Regions from separate parts of the Homo sapiens genome. Here region 2 is linked to region 1. A link means that fine-mapping ties the variant in region 1 to the expression of a gene that starts in the linked region. Tissue or cell type: whole blood. Region 1 holds a variant in brackets; the other region holds the start of a gene. All regions are shown on one strand. Distances are from middle to middle.

Region 1 (8,176 bases):
GACAGAGTCTTAGATAACATAAGGCAAGCTAGGGAGTGACAGCTCAACACCTTTACTGTGTGCTATTGGTTAGATGCAAGGTCACAGGTCTGTCCACACTGGAGGAGAGGGGATCATACAAGGCATGGACACCAGGAGGTGGGAAGTCACTGGGGTCACCTTAGGAGCTGCCCTGACAGCCTTGGAGCACTGGGGCACTGACAGCCTCTGCTATGGGTTGTGAGACTTCAGTGCTGCGAAGAACAAACCCCTTGAGTGTGGGACCCGTGCTTGACTCTCTCTGTCCCACCTCCAGCTCCCATACAATGGGGGCTTCTATGGGTTGCAGGCATTGGGGGGCTCCCTGGGACCTGGGGTGGGCGCTTCAGGTCTCCTTTCACCTTCCAACCACTGGCCCCTTCCCAAGCTCACTGTGTGACCTCAGGCAAGTTGCTTGAAGCTTCTGAGTCTTGATGTTCTCAGCTGCAAAACAAGGTTAACAGTAGCACCAGCCTCTTGGGTGATCGTGGGGACATAGCACTTACAAAGGGTTTGAGTTTTGACCTCACCAGGAAGTCCCCAAATGTTTGCTATGATTATCATTATTATTGTCTACCTCTGGTTCCCAGGGAGGCCTCTTTAGTTCTCAGGGAACGCTCCCTCATTCTGCAGGAATCTTTGAGCATCTGGGCACCACATGAAGCCTTAAGTGTTTTGGCAACAGTGTCTGGTACACGAAGGATGAGCCCTGCCCTATCCTGGGGGCAGAGGTTCTGTTCTGGGAGAGTTTCATCTCTGTCCAGTCATGGCTTCACTGCACTATTAGGGCAATGAATTTTAATGGCATGAATTATTTTTCACTCTTGCACTCTGCTGAACAGTGTGTGATTTCTGGGAACAGTCAGGCCTGGTGATTCCTGCAGGTCAGCTGAGCCAGGCCTGGCACCTTGTACCAGCAAAAGGGCCTGTCTCCCCTTCCAAGGGCCTGAGGGGCCTCACTCCACCACAAGAGCCTGGAAAAGTGGCGCGTGTCTGGCAGTGCCTCTGACTTGGGGAGTGGTGGCTGGGCCTGAAGGCCTGGGCACAGTGGGGAGGGTGGGCAAGGGATGGGCAGGAAAAGACAGCAGGGCCCAGGGCAGATCTGGGGAGCCTAGAGGTGTCCTGCTCATATCCCCCATCTTGTAGTTGGGGGAATGGGATGAGTGAGGAGGCTATGAGTTACCACCTTTAGGGAGACACCCCAAGAATGGCCTGGTTCCATCTCTCCCTCCTTCTGAAGAACACAGGGCTTGGGACAGGCAACCTGGTTTGAACTAGAATCACCAGCCTCAGTTTCCTCATCTGTTCTATGGAAATTACTAATGAGTTAACAGAGCAGCACCTGACCCAGGGAAGAGCTCGGTCACCCTGGGCTACGGGGCACCGGGGCGGAAGTGACAGAAGGGGCGGCTGTGGCTAAGAGAGAACCGGAGGCCGGGTCCGCTTGTGCACCGGGGGCTCGCTTTATTTCACCACCAGCACCTGTGTGCTTCTCCTGCCCGGGGAAGGGTGGATGCACTTGAGCAGCGCCCCCAGCAGGGCCAGGACGGTGACCACGAGCAGCACCAGCTTCAGCCCCTTGAGCACGGAGTCCGCCCTGCCCCGCAGGGCCTTCCTTGCCTCCCGCCACTGGGCATCGTTCTCTCTCCACTGAGCCTCCAGCGTCTCCAGACTGGCGGCGGGTTTGAACTGGGCCACGAGCTCCTGCTGCACGAAGCACTTGTAGACGGCCGGCTGGAAAACCTGCAGCTGCCTGCCGCCGGTGGAGGGGTCCAGAAAGGTGGTGAAGTCCTGGCCGGAGAGCTGGCTCTCCCACGTCAGGGGGGTGTCGTTGGCACGCCAGTTGACGGGCCTGCGAGGAGGACAAGGTCAGGTGCAGGGCCAGGGAGAAAGGAGGGACCGACGTCTCCCTGAGGAACAGAAAATAAAGCACCGCCCAGTCCCCCTCCTCGCCACCCCCCACGGAGCACTGTGCAGCCGTCAACAGTGGGGTGGAGGAGGCACAGCTGGGGGCTCCCAGGGCTCCACCCGTTACTGGCCCCACCCCTTACTGGCTCCCCTCTTCCTGGCTCCACCCCTTACTGGCCCCACCCCTTACTGGCTGGGTGACCTGGGCAAATGCCTCCAGCTCTTTGAACTTCCATTTCTTTATGTAAAACTAAGAGTCTAGACCAGGCTTGGTGGCTCACACCTGTAATCCCAACACTTTCAGAGGCAAAGGCAAGGAGGATGGCTTGAGCCCAGGAGTTCAGAACCAGCCTGGACAACAAAGCAAGAACCCATGTCTGCAAAAATTTAAAAAATTAGCTGGACATGCTGACATGCGCCTGTGGTCCTGGCTGCTCAGGAGGCTGAGGTGGGAGGATTACTTGAGCCCAGGAGGTTGAGGCTGCAGTGAGCCAGTCACAGCACTGCACTCCAGCCTGGGTGACAGAGCAAGACCCTGTCCCAAAAAAGAAAACAACAAACCAAAAAAAATGGAGAGTAATGATTGTACCTCATAAGGTTATTTGGAGGAGTTAGCAAGGGCACTCCTTAAATGATTTGTCCACCTGCCTTTGCCTGTCTGGTCTCATCTCCTTCACTCTCCCCTTTACTCACTCTGCCTAGCCACGCTGCTCTCCTAGATGTTCCTCTGACATGCTGGGTGCAGTCTTGGCCCTGGCTGTTCCCTCTGTCCCCAGGGCTTCCTCGCCTCCTTTCAGTCTGGGCTGAAATGGCAGCTTCTCAGAGGAGCCTTCCCTGACCCCACCACTTGACACTTTTAACCTCCCCTATTCCCAGCATCCCTTCCTGCTCCGTCACCATCCAAAATACTATAGGTCGGGCACAGTGGCTCAGGTTTGTAATCCCAGCACTTTGGGAGGCCGATGTGGGAGGATCACTTGAGCCCAGGAGTTTGGGCTCAGCCTGGGCAACAAAGTGAGACCTCATCTCTACAAAACTTAAAAACTTAGCCGGGTGTGGTAGTGCATGTCTGTAGTCCCAGCTACTGTGGAGGCTGAGATGGGAGAATCACCTGAGCCCGGGGAATTGAGGCTGCAGTGAGCTGTGATTGTGCCACTGTACTCCAGCCAGGGTGAAAGAGCAAGACCCTGTCTCTAATAATAATAACAATAATAATAATAAAACTATATATTTATGCGCCACAAGGGCAAGAATCTCCGTTGGTTGTGTTCTTCACTGTTTCCCAGGTCCCTAGAATGGAGCTTGGCATATAAATATGCAGTGAACACGTGTTTAGTGGAGAAATGAATCAGGCACCGACACACCCAGCGTGGTGGAAGAACAGAGAGGATATTCCACAGACAATATCATAAAAGCTTGCATTCCCAGCTAGGTACATTGTGGAACTTCTTATTGGATGCTATGGCAGGCACTCTACAGTCTTTAGTCCCCTTAACACATCACAATGACCCTGTGTGGCCAGGGGCTGGCAAGACCTCTGCACTGAGTTAGACAGTGGCCCCCGCAAAATGCATGTCCTTCCCAGAACCTCAGAATGTAACATTATTTGGAAATTGGATCATTGCAGATATAATCAGTTGAGATGAGAGCATATTGGAATAAGGTGGGCCCTCAATCCCATCTGACCGGTGTCCTTTTAAGAAAAGGAAAAGAGAGACAGGGACACAGACACCCAGGAAGAATGCCAAGTGATGATGGAGGCGGGCATTGGAGAGAAGCAGCCACAAGCCAGAGAAGACCGGGATCTCTGACTGCATCCAGAAGCTAGAAAAA[A/G]GGAGGATTCTGCCCAGCTCACTCAGAGGGACTGAGAGGGAGCGTGGTTCTACTGACACCTTGATTTCAGACTTACGGCCTCCAGAAGGGTGAGACAATGGATTTCTGGGGTTTTTTTGTTTTTTTGTTTTTTGAGTCAGAGTTGTCTCGTGATGTTGCCCAGGCTGGAGTGCAGTGGTGTGATCTCGGCTCACTGCAACCTCCGCCTCCCGGGTTCAAGTGATTCTCCTGCGTCAGCCTCCTGAGTAGCTGGGATTACAGGCACGTGCCACCATACCTGGCTAATTTTTGTATTTCTAGTAGAGACGGGGTTTCACCATGTTGGCCAGGCTGGTCTCGAACTCCTGACCTCAGGTGATCCACCCACCTCGGCCTCCCAAAGTGCTGGGATTACAGGCATGAGCCACCGCGCCCAGCCTGCATTTCTTATTAAGGGGCAGGTGGACTGGGGGAGAGGAGGGGAAGGGGCTATTTTCCAGAGGCTCCTGGCAGGAAGTAAGAAGATGAGTGTGAGTTCTGGGAGGCAGGCCTTGATGGGAAGCCCCGGGGGCACCAGCCTCTCCTCCAAGGTCTCACTGACCTTTCCAGATGAAGCAGGGGCCTGTTGGAGCCCCTAAGCTTCCTGGGCTTCCCCCATCACAGCCCCATCTGTCTGCCTGGGCTTCTCCCATCCCGGCTCGCACCACCCTGGGCTGTGTCCCCCTCGGACTGTTTAAGAGCAGGGCCTGGCACTGTCCTGATGACCACTACGTGGCTGAACTGCAAAGAACGCCCACTCATCCCTCTGCACATATTACCAGGAAGGATCCCCTGACCGGAAGAATCTGGGTAGGGGCCAGAGGCAGGGATTCCATCACCTGTACATGGATCCTAAGGGACAGTCGAGCCACACAAATTCTGTCTTCTCATCGAGCCTGAAGTTGTCAAAAATGACGTAATCCACCCTTAACTGTGTGTTATTGGTGCACTGGACGTGGCAGGCTTCCACCTGCAGCTCAGGCCGCAAGCGGCTAGACCACACCAGCACCTCTCCCAGATAGAGCCAGCAGGGCATGGCTTCCTCCAGAGGCTCCTCAATGTAGCGGTACCCCAGGCGTTTACACTCGCCCGGCTCCTCACAGCGGTTGCAGTCCTGCCAGGGCTCCCACCAGGTAAAAATGAGCTGTTTGCTGCCCAAATGCAGGGTCTCGTTCTGCAGGGGCCTCTGACCCAGGTCCTTGTGTGTTATATGCAGGGTGGTGACATCCTGAAAGTCAATTTCATACTGCACCACTTGGCGGCCATTCTTGTTCCAGCAGTGGTAGAGGCCCGTCTGGGAGGGCAATGGATCTTTAATGAGAAGGCTGCCCTCGGGCATTATTTCCATATTGGAAATATTGGTGAGGCTGGTGAGCCTGCCCTTCTTGCCTTGTGTGAATAAATAGTACCAGTGCGCCCCCGAGGAGTTGCAATACAGGAGAATATCATTGCCTGAGAGTAGGGCCTGTTGGCACTGCTTACCACTGGGGCAGCTGATGGAAAAGTAGAACCCCAGTGCCGGGGCAGCAAAGTGGAGCAGCAGCCACAGCATGGGTGGCATGGTGGACTGGGGCTGTGGCAGTGGGCTGGTGCCACCCCGAACATTGTGAGGTCACCCATGAACTCTGGCCTCAGCCCTGGGCAGTGGGATGAATTGCAGCTACCACATGTGTGTGTGAGGTCACCATCCCCTTTTGTTTTGTGACAAGCTGACAACACTGTTTTTCTTTTTTTTTTTTTTTTCAGACAAGGACTCGCTCTTTTACCCAGGCTGGAAGGCAGTGCTGCAATCACAGCTCACTACAGCCTCAAACTCCTGGAATCAAGTAATCCTCTCACCTCAGCCTGTTGAGTAGCTGGGACTTCAGGTGCATGCTAACCATGCCCAGCTAGTTTAAAATTTTTTCTGTAGAGACGGGGTCTTGTTATGTTGCCCAAGCTGGTCTCGAACTCCTGGCTTCAAGCCATCCTCCCACCTTGGCCTCCCAAAGTGTTGGGATTACAGGCGTGAGCCACTGTGCCCCGCTGACCATATTTAATTTCTATTCCAAGCCCTCCATTTTGCTGGGAAAGGAGCAAACTTAATTTGTCTATTCAGAGTTTTCTCTACTACCTGCCCCGCTTCCTTTCCCAGGGGTGAGACTACATTCCCAGGGATGAAATAAGAGCATGAAGGTGTCACATGTGAACACTCAACACATATTTCCTGAACTCTTACTATGTTCTGGGCACACTTCTTAGCACTGGGGATAAAGCAGTAAACAAATCCTCTCGGGCTGGGCTCGGTGGCTCATGCCTGTAATCCCAGCACTTTTGGGAGGCTGAGGCGGGCGGATCACCTGAGGTCAGGAGTTCAAGACCAGCCTGGCCAACGTGGTGAAACCCCGTCTCTACTAAATAGCTGGGTGTGGTGGCGGGCATCTGTAATCCCAGCTACTCAGGAGGCTGAGGCAGGAGAATCACTTGAACCTGGGAGACGGAGGTTGCAGTGAGCCGAGATCGCACCGCTGCACTCCAGCCTGGGTGACAAGCGTGAAACTCCATCTCAAAAAAAATAATAAAAATTTAAAAAAATTTATCTCTGGTTACTGTTCTGACCTCCTGCACCTTTCCCCCTACTCCCTACCCTCCAACCACGCTGGCCTCCCGCTGTTCCCTGAATCTGTCAGGCAGGCAGAGGGGCTCTTGCCCCAGAACCATTGCACATGCTGGTCCCCGTCTCTTCCCTCAGCCATCTGCATGACTCAATACATCTTCAACAAATATTTTTCTCAGTTGCTCCCTTTCCTTCCATCCCCTTTTCTAAACACCTTCTCAGGCGGTGGCTCACACCTGTAATGCCAGCACTTGCCAGCACTTTGGGTGGCCAAGATGGGAGAATCACTTGAGGTCAGGAATTCGAGGCCAGCCTGGCCAACACGGTGAAGCCCCATCTCTACTAAAAATACAAAAAATTAGCCAGGCATGGTGTCGGGCATCTGTAATCCCAGCTACTCAGGTGGCCGAGGCAGAAGAATAGCTTGAACCCAGGAGGCAGAGGTTGCAGTGAGTGCAGATTGCGCCACTGCACTCCAGCCTGGGTGACAGAGACACTGCCTCAAATAAATAAATAAATAAATAAATAAATTAAATGATCTTCCAGACTTTTCCCAACATAGAAAAAGATGGAAGATTTCTATGAGACTTGCATCACCTTATCTCAAAACCTTATAAGGACATTACAACAAAGAAAAACCTCAGGTCAATCTCTTTTGTCAACACAGACACACTATCCCAAAGAAAATATTGCAAATTGATTCCAGTGATTTTCTTTACACAAGGATAAATATAAAGACCAAATTGGGTTATTTCAGGACGGCAAATTTGGGTTATATTTGCACATCAATTAATGTAATTCACCACATTAACAGAATAAAGGAGAAAAACCATATTATTATCTCAGTAGATACAGAGAATGCATCTGATAAAACTCAACATTCATTTATGGCTCAAAACTTTTGGCAAACTAGGAACAAAAGGAAATTTTCTAAGAAGATAAAGTGTTTCTATTAAAAACCTAGGACAGGCCGGGTACAGTGGCTCACACCTGTAATCCCAGCACTTTGGAAGGCCGAGGCGGGTGGATCACCTGAAGTCAGGAGTTCGAGACCAGTTAGGGTAACATGGCGAAACCCTATCTCTACTAAAAATACAAAAATTAGCCGGGTGTGATGGTGGGTGCCTGTAGTCCCAGCTACTTGGGAGGCTGAGGCAGGAGAATCATTTGAACCCAGGAGGCGAAGGTTGCAGTGAACTGAGATTGCGCCATTGCACTCCAGCCTGGGCAACAGAGTGAGACCCTGTCTCAAAAAAAAAACAAAAAACAAACAAACAAACAAAAACACCTAGGGCTAAATTATACTTCATAGTAAAATACTAAGAATAACACAAGTATTTCTGCCATCAACTTTTCCATTCAGCATTTTACTGGAGGTAAGATACAAGCAAAAAATTAGATATAAGGTCATATATTAAATATGATTTATATACCAGCAACAAAGAATTAAAAGATGAAACTTAAAAGATTACTATAGGATAGTATGAAAAAATTAAATACCTAGGAATAAATATAATAAAAGATATGTGAGTCCTCTACATTAATAACTTCACATTATTGGGAGAAATTAAAGAAAGACTAAACAATGGAAGTATTTGCCACATTCACGGATTGGAAGACTAAATATTGAATATATATTGATTTACCCCAAATTTATCTTTAGATTCAATAAAGTCCCAATTAAAAAAAAATAAGAGTTTTGGGGTGGAAACTACAAACCGATTCCAAAATTTGTATATAATGGGCCAAGAATAACCAAGACAATCTTGAAGAACAAAGTTGGGAAACACTACCACATATTGT
Region 2 (8,176 bases), 22 kb after region 1:
AAAAAAAAAAAAAAAAAAAAAAGATTGATAAAATAAATTAACAAGTATCTAAATAAATGGCATAAATGGCAAGATGTGTTCATGGATAGAAAGACTTAACATTAAAAATGTCAATACTACCCAAAACAATCTACAGATTCAACACAATGCTGATCAAAATTCCAACGTCTTTTCCCAAAGAAATGGAAGCAGATCCTCAAATTCATATGGAGTTTTAAGGGGCCCCCAATAACCAAAACAATACTGAAAGAGAAGAATAAAGTTAGAGGACTCACACTTTCCATCTGTGAACTTACTACAGAGCTATAGTAATTAAAACATATGGTACTTGCATAAGGATAGGCGTATAGATCAATGAAATAGAATACAGAACCGAGAAACAAACCCTCACATATATGATTAATTGATTTTTGACAAGGAAGCCAAGACCACTTAATGGGAAAAGGACAGTGTTTTCAACAAATGGTAGAGGGAAAACTGAATATCCATATGCAAAAAAATGAAGTTGGACCCTTCTACCACATACTAAAATTAAAATGGCCCAGGCCGGGTGCAGTGGCTCACACCTATGTGAGCACTTTGGGAAGCCAAGGCAGGTAGATTACTTGAGGTCAGGAGTTCGAGACCAGCCTGGCCAACATGGTGAAACCCCATCTCTTCTAAAAATACAAAAATTAACCCAGTGTGGTGGCATGCACCTGTAATCCCAAATACTCGGGAGGCTGAGGCATGAGAATCGGTTGAACCCGGCAGGTGGAGGTTGCAGTAAGCGGAGATCACACCACTGCACTCCAACCTGGGCGACAAAGTGAGACTCAGTCTCAAAAAATAAAATGAAATAAAATAAAGTGGCTCAAAGACTCAATTTAAGAGTTAAAACTATAAAACTCTTAGAAGAAAATATTGTTGAAAATCTTCATCACATTGGACTTGGCAACAACTGCATAAATAGGATACCAAAAGTACAAGGAAGAAAAAATAGTAGGTAAATTGAACTTCATCAAATTAAGAACTTTTGTGCACCAAAGGACACTATCAAGAAAGTGAAAAAACCTGGAGAATGGAAGAAAATATTTGCAGATCATATATCTAACAAGGGATTAATATTCAAAATATATATAGAACTCCTACAACTTGACAACAAAAAAACAAACAACCCAATTCAAAAATGGGCAAAGTACTTGAATAGACACTTCTCCAAAGAAGATATACTAATGGACAATAAATTCGTGGAAATATGCTCAACATCGTTAGTCATTGGGGAAATGCAGATTACAACCACAATGAGATGCCACTTCACACTAACCAGGATGGCCATAATCAAGAAAATGGATAATAAGTTTTGGTGGGGATGTGGAGAAATTGGAATCCTCCGTGCATTGCTGGTGGGAATGTACAATAGTGCAGTCATTGGGGAAAACAGTTTGGCAGTTCCTCAAAAGGTTAAAAATAGAACTACCAAGTCACCCAGCAATTCCATTCTTAGGCATATATTCAAAAGAAATGAAAGCAGATATTTGTACACCAGTGTTCACAGCTGCACTATTTACAATAGTCAAAAGGTAGAAACAACCTAGGTCCATCCACAAATGAATGGATAAATAAAACGTAGCATATACATACAATGGTACACTAGTCCGCTGTAAAAAGAAATTTTGATCTTACTGCATGCTACATGGCTTCGACATACTACAACATGGATGGACCTTGAAAACATTATTCTTTGTGAAATAAACTAGACACAGGACAAATGTTAGACGATTCCACTTATATGAGGCACCTAGAATGGGCAATTTGGTAAGCAAAGTAGAATAGAAATTACTAGGGGCACAGGTAGCAGGGAATGGGGAGTTACTGTTTAATGGTCACAGAGTTTATGTTGGGGATGATGAAACAGTTTCGGGGATAAAGAGTGGTGATTGGTACACGACATTGTGAATATACTTAATGCCACTGAATTTTACACTTGAAGTGGTTAAAGCGATAAATATTATAGTTTGCATATTTTATCATAAAAATATTTTTTTAAACGATGAAGGGACGTGAACGGGTTGAAATTTTATAAAAAGTGGCCAGGGAAGGTGTCACTGCAATGGTGTCCTACAGGAGGAGGAAGATCATGTGGACATCTGCGGGAAGGGTGTTCTGGCAGAGGGAGTAGCACGGGCGATGGCTCTGAGGACTGTGAGAAGTATAGTTGGAAACAGCGAGGAGGCCAGGGTGTCCGAAGCTGAGTAAGCCAGAGAGAGTGGGAGGAGGTGAGATAAGAGGGGGAAGGTCAGTTTCTGCTGAGAGTGAGGAGGAGCCACAGGAGGGCTGTGAGCAGGTGGACGTGATCTGGCTTGAGTTTTAACAGGGCCAGTAGAACAAAGCACGCCTGGGTACCGAAACCAGCCACTGGCCAGTTGGCAACCTGGGGGAGTCTAACGCGAGGAAGCGCCCAGGGTTCCCCCAGGATGCGCTTTCCCTCGCCGCCACCTGGAGACAGCAGAGTCACGCCCAGCGCTGCGCAGGCTGATCGCCGCGCCGCGCCCCCGCCCTCGGTCGCAGGTGGCTCGTTCCGGGAATTCCTAAGCGGAAACCGGTCCCAAGCCCCGCGCCTTCGCTCGGCCCCTTTAAGAGCCAGAATTTCCGGAGGGCTGACCCGGGGGCTAGGGATGCCCAGGGGCCGAACCACAAGTTGGGAACGGGTGGGGGAGGTGGCGAAAACTTCCGAAGTGGAATTCCAACTTTTCCTGGCCCTGATTCCCCTTGGGCATCCCTGAGGGGGCAGAGCTTCCCTTCCGGGGACTTTAGAGGGTTCCTCAGGTCATCTAACTGGGAGACACAGGAGGCCCGAAGCGCCCCCCCTCCACCCGGTCCGGAGGAACCCCAGTGGAAGTGGAGAAGTCAGGCGCCACCAACAAGCCTCTCCCAGCCAGGACTTTGCTTAGACTCGCTCCTCCCGGCAGGGCGCACCTAGGCGGGTCCATCGCCAGCCGGGGAGAGGGGTTTGGGCAGGGAGGGAACAGGTGCGCGGCGGGACCCGCCCTATCTCAACAGGTGAATCGCTCCAAGTGGGTCTCGGTTGCATGGATCTCGGTGCGCTTGGTTTGGCCGGAGCAGATGGGGGCCGGAAGGGACCTGTGGTCCGCAGGCGCCCTCCCAGCGGGCCAGTCACTTGGTTCGGGCCCTGGGGGACGGAGCGCACCTGGGTCAGCCCACTTCCGGGGAGGGAGGCAGAGGAACCCCTCCCCGCCGCTCACCCCTAAGCCCAGCCCTCGGCTCCCACCCTTGTGTACCTGGGCCGAACCATTCACCGGAGCGCGCAGCGGGTGGAGTGTGGCTCGGAGGACCGCGGCGGGTCAAGCACCTTTCTCCCCCATATCTGAAAGCATGCCCTTTGTCCACGTCGTTTACGCTCATTAAAACTTCCAGAATGCAACAGGACGGACTTGGAGTAGGGACAAGGAACGGAAGTGGGAAGGGGAGGAGCGTGCACCCCTCCTGGCCTTGGTGCGCGCCGCGCCCCCTAAGGTACTTTGGAAGGGACGCGCGGGCCAGACGCGCCCAGACGGCCGCGATGGCGCTGTTGGCCGGCGGGCTCTCCAGAGGGCTGGGCTCCCACCCGGCCGCCGCAGGCCGGGACGCGGTCGTCTTCGTGTGGCTTCTGCTTAGCACCTGGTGCACAGGTACGGGGCACGGGGCCTCTGACGCTGCGGAACGCCGGAGGGAACTGTAGAGGGGGATGGATGGAGTTGGAGGCGGCGGGAAGCGGGAAGCGGGGGTCTCAGAGGCTGGGACCTTCCGATCCCCTGGGTCTTGGGCGATCTGTTGCGCGCGGGAGTGAGAGGAATTCCCCATTTGTGCCGGGGAGCGCTCCCCGCGCCCTTATCTGGAAGATAGCAGGAAGTGAAACTCCCTGGACGGTGAGACCCGGAGCGGCAGGGAGAATGGAACTCTTTGTGGGGAGGGAGTGGAAGACCGCCCGATCTCTGGGAAAAGAAAAGCCGGGATGGGACTTGGGCGCACCCGGGGATTTCTAAGTTTTGGAGTAACGGGGAGAGGGCACGGGAGGGCTGGATCAGACGCTTCCTAGAGGGACAGAGACGAAGGAACAATGCCTAGGCCTCGGGTGGGTGTGGGACTGGGGACTCCCCATCCCCCGCACCCCACCCACCTCCCGCGGGCTCCGGATTATACGTGCGTAAGAGTCTGGTGGGATGGATTTACGGACTTGAAACCGACTTCTGCTGGCAGGCTTTCACCTGGATGGGATATTTGGGTGGTGATGAGGTCTTTCCCGAGACACTTTTGGTTCAGTCATTTGAAATGACTTTAGAGTAGGGTGAGGTGGTGGGAGGCTGATGGAGATATTGTGGGGGCTTTAGTCCCTCCATGGCAAAGCAGTTCAGGCAAACAACTCCATGGTTTTCCCTCCAAATTCAAAAGGCCCCGGGTAACCTGGAATCCTTCGTAGTCGGTTTTGAAGTGGGGCCTTGGGCGCTGGGGGCATCAACATGGCCATCTGGGCTTGCCTGCCCAGGCCACACAGAGGCCCCTTGTTGTGGGTGAATGGCAAAGGGAAGAGGGGACTGGTGTGGTTCAGAGGCCACAGGCTGGGAAGAGGGATGGCGGGCGAGTCCAAGGAAACTGGCCGTGTCACCGTGCACCTGCCACTTCAGCCCCACGGGTCTATAAAATGGGCATGATTATCGTGGCTACCTCACTGGTCCTGGCAATTAAGGAACAATGTGTGCCAGGCACTCTGTAAACCACATACTTGCGAGTGTCAAGCTGGTGACAGGTGGCGTTCCTGTTGAAGCACCTCCCTGAGCTCACAGCAACCCTTGCTGTCTCTCCTCTTGCCCTCAGCTCCTGCCAGGGCCATCCAGGTGACCGTGTCCAACCCCTACCACGTGGTGATCCTCTTCCAGCCTGTGACCCTGCCCTGTACCTACCAGATGACCTCGACCCCCACGCAACCCATCGTCATCTGGAAGTACAAGTCTTTCTGCCGGGACCGCATCGCCGATGCCTTCTCCCCGGCCAGCGTCGACAACCAGCTCAATGCCCAGCTGGCAGCCGGGAACCCAGGCTACAACCCCTACGTTGAGTGCCAGGACAGCGTGCGCACCGTCAGGGTCGTGGCCACCAAGCAGGGCAACGCTGTGACCCTGGGAGATTACTACCAGGGCCGGAGGATTACCATCACCGGAAGTATGTTGGGCAGGGCAGGGGGATGAGGCTGGGCTTGCCCGGGTGGTGGGACTGGCGTCCTTGTGCGGGACCTGGAGTCCCCATCTGAAAGCTCTTGAGTGCCAGTGTCTGAAAGGACCATTGAAGGGAGCAATTCTTTTTTTTTTTTTTTTTGAAGATGGAGTCTTGCTCTGGACTCCAGGCTGGAGTGCAGTGGTGCGATCTCAGCTCACTGCAACCTCCACCTCCCAGGTTCAAGCAATTCTCTTGCCTCAGCCTCCCGAGTAGCTGGGACTCCAGGTGCGTGCCACCACGCCCAGTTAATTTTTGTATTTTTAGTAGAGATGGGGTTTCACCATGTTGGCCAGGCTGGTCTCAAACTCCTGACCTCAAATGATCTGCCCGCCTTGGCCTCGCAAAGTGCTGAGAGACACCATACCCAGCCTAAAGGGAGCGATTCTATTCTACTATTCTTCCTTCTGCTAATCCTTCCATTCTTTAATTTAATAACGAAGATTTTTTGAGTACCTGTCATATACCAGGTGCTGTTCTGGGCCCTGGGAATACAGCTGTTAACAAAATCATCAAACCACTTCCCTCGTGGAGCCCACATTGCAGTGAGAGAGACAAACACGACACACACTCTCAAGTCCTTGAAGATAAAGAAAACTGGGTAACGGAGAGAAGAGGCCAGGGTTTGTTCTATAATCATTAATAACACGAGCAGTAAGAAGTAAAATTTATCTAAGTAACAACTTATAAAGGGTCTACTGTGTGCTAAGCTCTCATCCAGGTTCCCAAGGATTAACTCAGACCACACAGTAATTGAATAGATTCTATCATTGTCATCTTACAGAGGCCCAGAGAGAGAAAGTGACTTGCCTAGTGTCATAGCTGGTAACGGGGCTGGGATTCTAACTCAGCCACTTTGGGTCTAGTGGCCAAGCTCCTAATCCCTTTGCTTGCCTAGGGTGGTCCGCAGAGGACTCACAGAGGAGATGGCAGGAGTGAACTGCAGGGGCAAGAGAGCTTAATGGAGAAAGCCTGTGACATGCCAGGAACTGCACACATATTCTCCCATTGAGTCCTCTCCTCTACCCTCCTGACAGCTGAGGCACAGAGAGGTTACCTTGTTCAAATGGGTGCATAGGAAGTCAAAGTCTGGAGCTGGGGTTTGAACCCAGGCAGCCCTGAGAACCTTGTTCTTTTTTTTTGAGACGGAGTCTCGCTCTGTCGCCCAGGCTGGAGTGCAGTGGCGGGATCTCGGCTCACTGCAAGCTCCGCCTCCCGGGTTCACGCCATTCTCCTGCCTCAGCCTCCCAAGTAGCTGGGACTACAGGCGCCCGCCACTACGCCCGGCTAATTTTTTGTATTTTTAGTAGAGACGGGGTTTCACCGTTTTAGCCGGGATGGTCTCGATCTCCTGACCTCGTGATCCGCCCGCCTCGGCCTCCCAAAGTGCTGGGATTACAGGCGTGAGCCACCGCGCCCGGCCCCTTGTTCTTAACTGTAATGCTGCCTCCTGATAGGATGTGCCTGTTGGGACTAAGTAAGGGGCAGTCATTCATTCATTCATTTGGTATTTATCAAGCATCGACTATGTGTCGTTGGTGCTGGGGATAGAGGTGATTGGGATGGCTGAAGTTTCTGTCGTCAAGGAGATGACATTCTGGTGGAGTGAGACTGGCAGTAAATAAGCAGATAAAGAAAGAGTATGAGAATTTCAAAGTCTGGGCACGGTGGCTCACGTCTGTAATCTCAGCACTTTGGGAGGCCAAGGTGGGTGGATCACCTGAGGTCAGGAGTTCCAGACCAGCCTGGCCAACATGGTGAAACCCCGTCTCTACTAAAAATACAAAGATTAGCCAGGCATGGTGGCACATGCCTGTAATCCCAGCTACTCAGGAGGCTGAGGCATGAGAATCGCTTGAACCCAGGAGGCAGAGGTTGCAGTGAGCTGAGATCGCACCACTGTACTGCAGTCTGGGCGACAGAGTGAGACTCTGTCTCAAAAAAAAAAAAAAAAAAAAAGACTCCGTCAAGGTATAAGAATGTCAGAGAGTACTAAGTGTTGCAAAGAAAATAACACCAGGCTGGGTGCATTGGCTCATGCCTGTAAATTTCAGCACTTTGGGAGGCCAAGGCAGGAGGATCACTTGAGCCTAGGAGTTTGAGACCAGCCTGGACAACAAAATGAGACCCCATGTCTACAAAAATTTTAAAAATTTAAAAATTAGCTGGGCATGGTGGCATGTGCCTGTGGTCCCGGCTGCTCAGGAGGCTGAGGTGGGAGGATTGCTTGGGCTTGAGAGGTCAAGGCTTCAGTGAGTCATGATCGTGCCACTGCATTCCAGCCTGGGTGACAGAGTGAGACCCTGTCTTGAAATGAAAAGAAAATAGGCTGGGCGCAGTGGCTCACACCTGTAATCCCAGCACTTTGGGAGGCCGAGGTGGGTGGATCACCTGAGGTCAGGAGATCGAGACCAGCCTGGCCAACATGGTGAAATCCCATCTCTACTAAAAATACAAAATTTAGCCGGGCGTGGTGGTGGGCGCCTGTAATCCCAGCTACTCGGGAGGCTGAGGCAGGAGAATCGCTTGAACCTGGGAGGCGAAGGTTGCGGTGCGCCAAGATTGCGCCACTGCACTCTAGCCTGGGAAACAGTGAGACTCCGTCTTAAAAAAAAAAGAAAAAAGAAAATAGCACTGGGTGATGTGCTACATGGAATGACTTGGGCTGTGAATATGATTTGAGGAGGGCCTGGGCCTGGGCCTTACAGAACCTAGAAGGCAGAGAGGAAGGGGAGGGGCAGGGTGCCAGGGATGAAGGCTCACGTACCTCATGTCTTAGTGTGTGTTCACTGTCTTAAACAAGAATTTAAAGTTGGGCATGGGGCAGAGCGGGGAAGGGAGCATCCCTTTGCAGACCCCAAGAAGCCAGGAACTGGAGCACATTCTGCTAGAGGATCGATGGGAAGCAGGGTTCCAGGGGCTGAGC

What was found. PIP is the estimated chance that this variant, and not a neighbour inherited with it, causes the effect.
Region 2: it holds the start of LSR, and the variant in region 1 is fine-mapped to the expression of LSR in whole blood (TOPMed, PIP above 0.99).

The regions. Positions count from the first base shown.
Region 1 is chr19:35,223,343-35,231,518 of GRCh38, forward strand. FAM187B (family with sequence similarity 187 member B) reads right to left here and starts at 5,397. Exons shown (of 2, transcript NM_152481.2): 1 at 4,617-5,397; 2 at 1,458-1,870. The coding sequence starts at 5,338. The coding sequence ends at 1,483. The variant A/G (reference allele first, on the strand shown) is at 3,760.
Region 2 is chr19:35,245,461-35,253,636 of GRCh38, forward strand. It overlaps LSR (lipolysis stimulated lipoprotein receptor), which reads left to right and starts at 3,542. Exons shown (of 10, transcript NM_205834.4): 1 at 3,542-3,671; 2 at 4,855-5,199. The coding sequence starts at 3,563. RefSeq lists enhancers at 2,126-2,295, 2,429-3,231, 3,232-4,033 and silencers at 3,146-3,225, 3,636-3,705.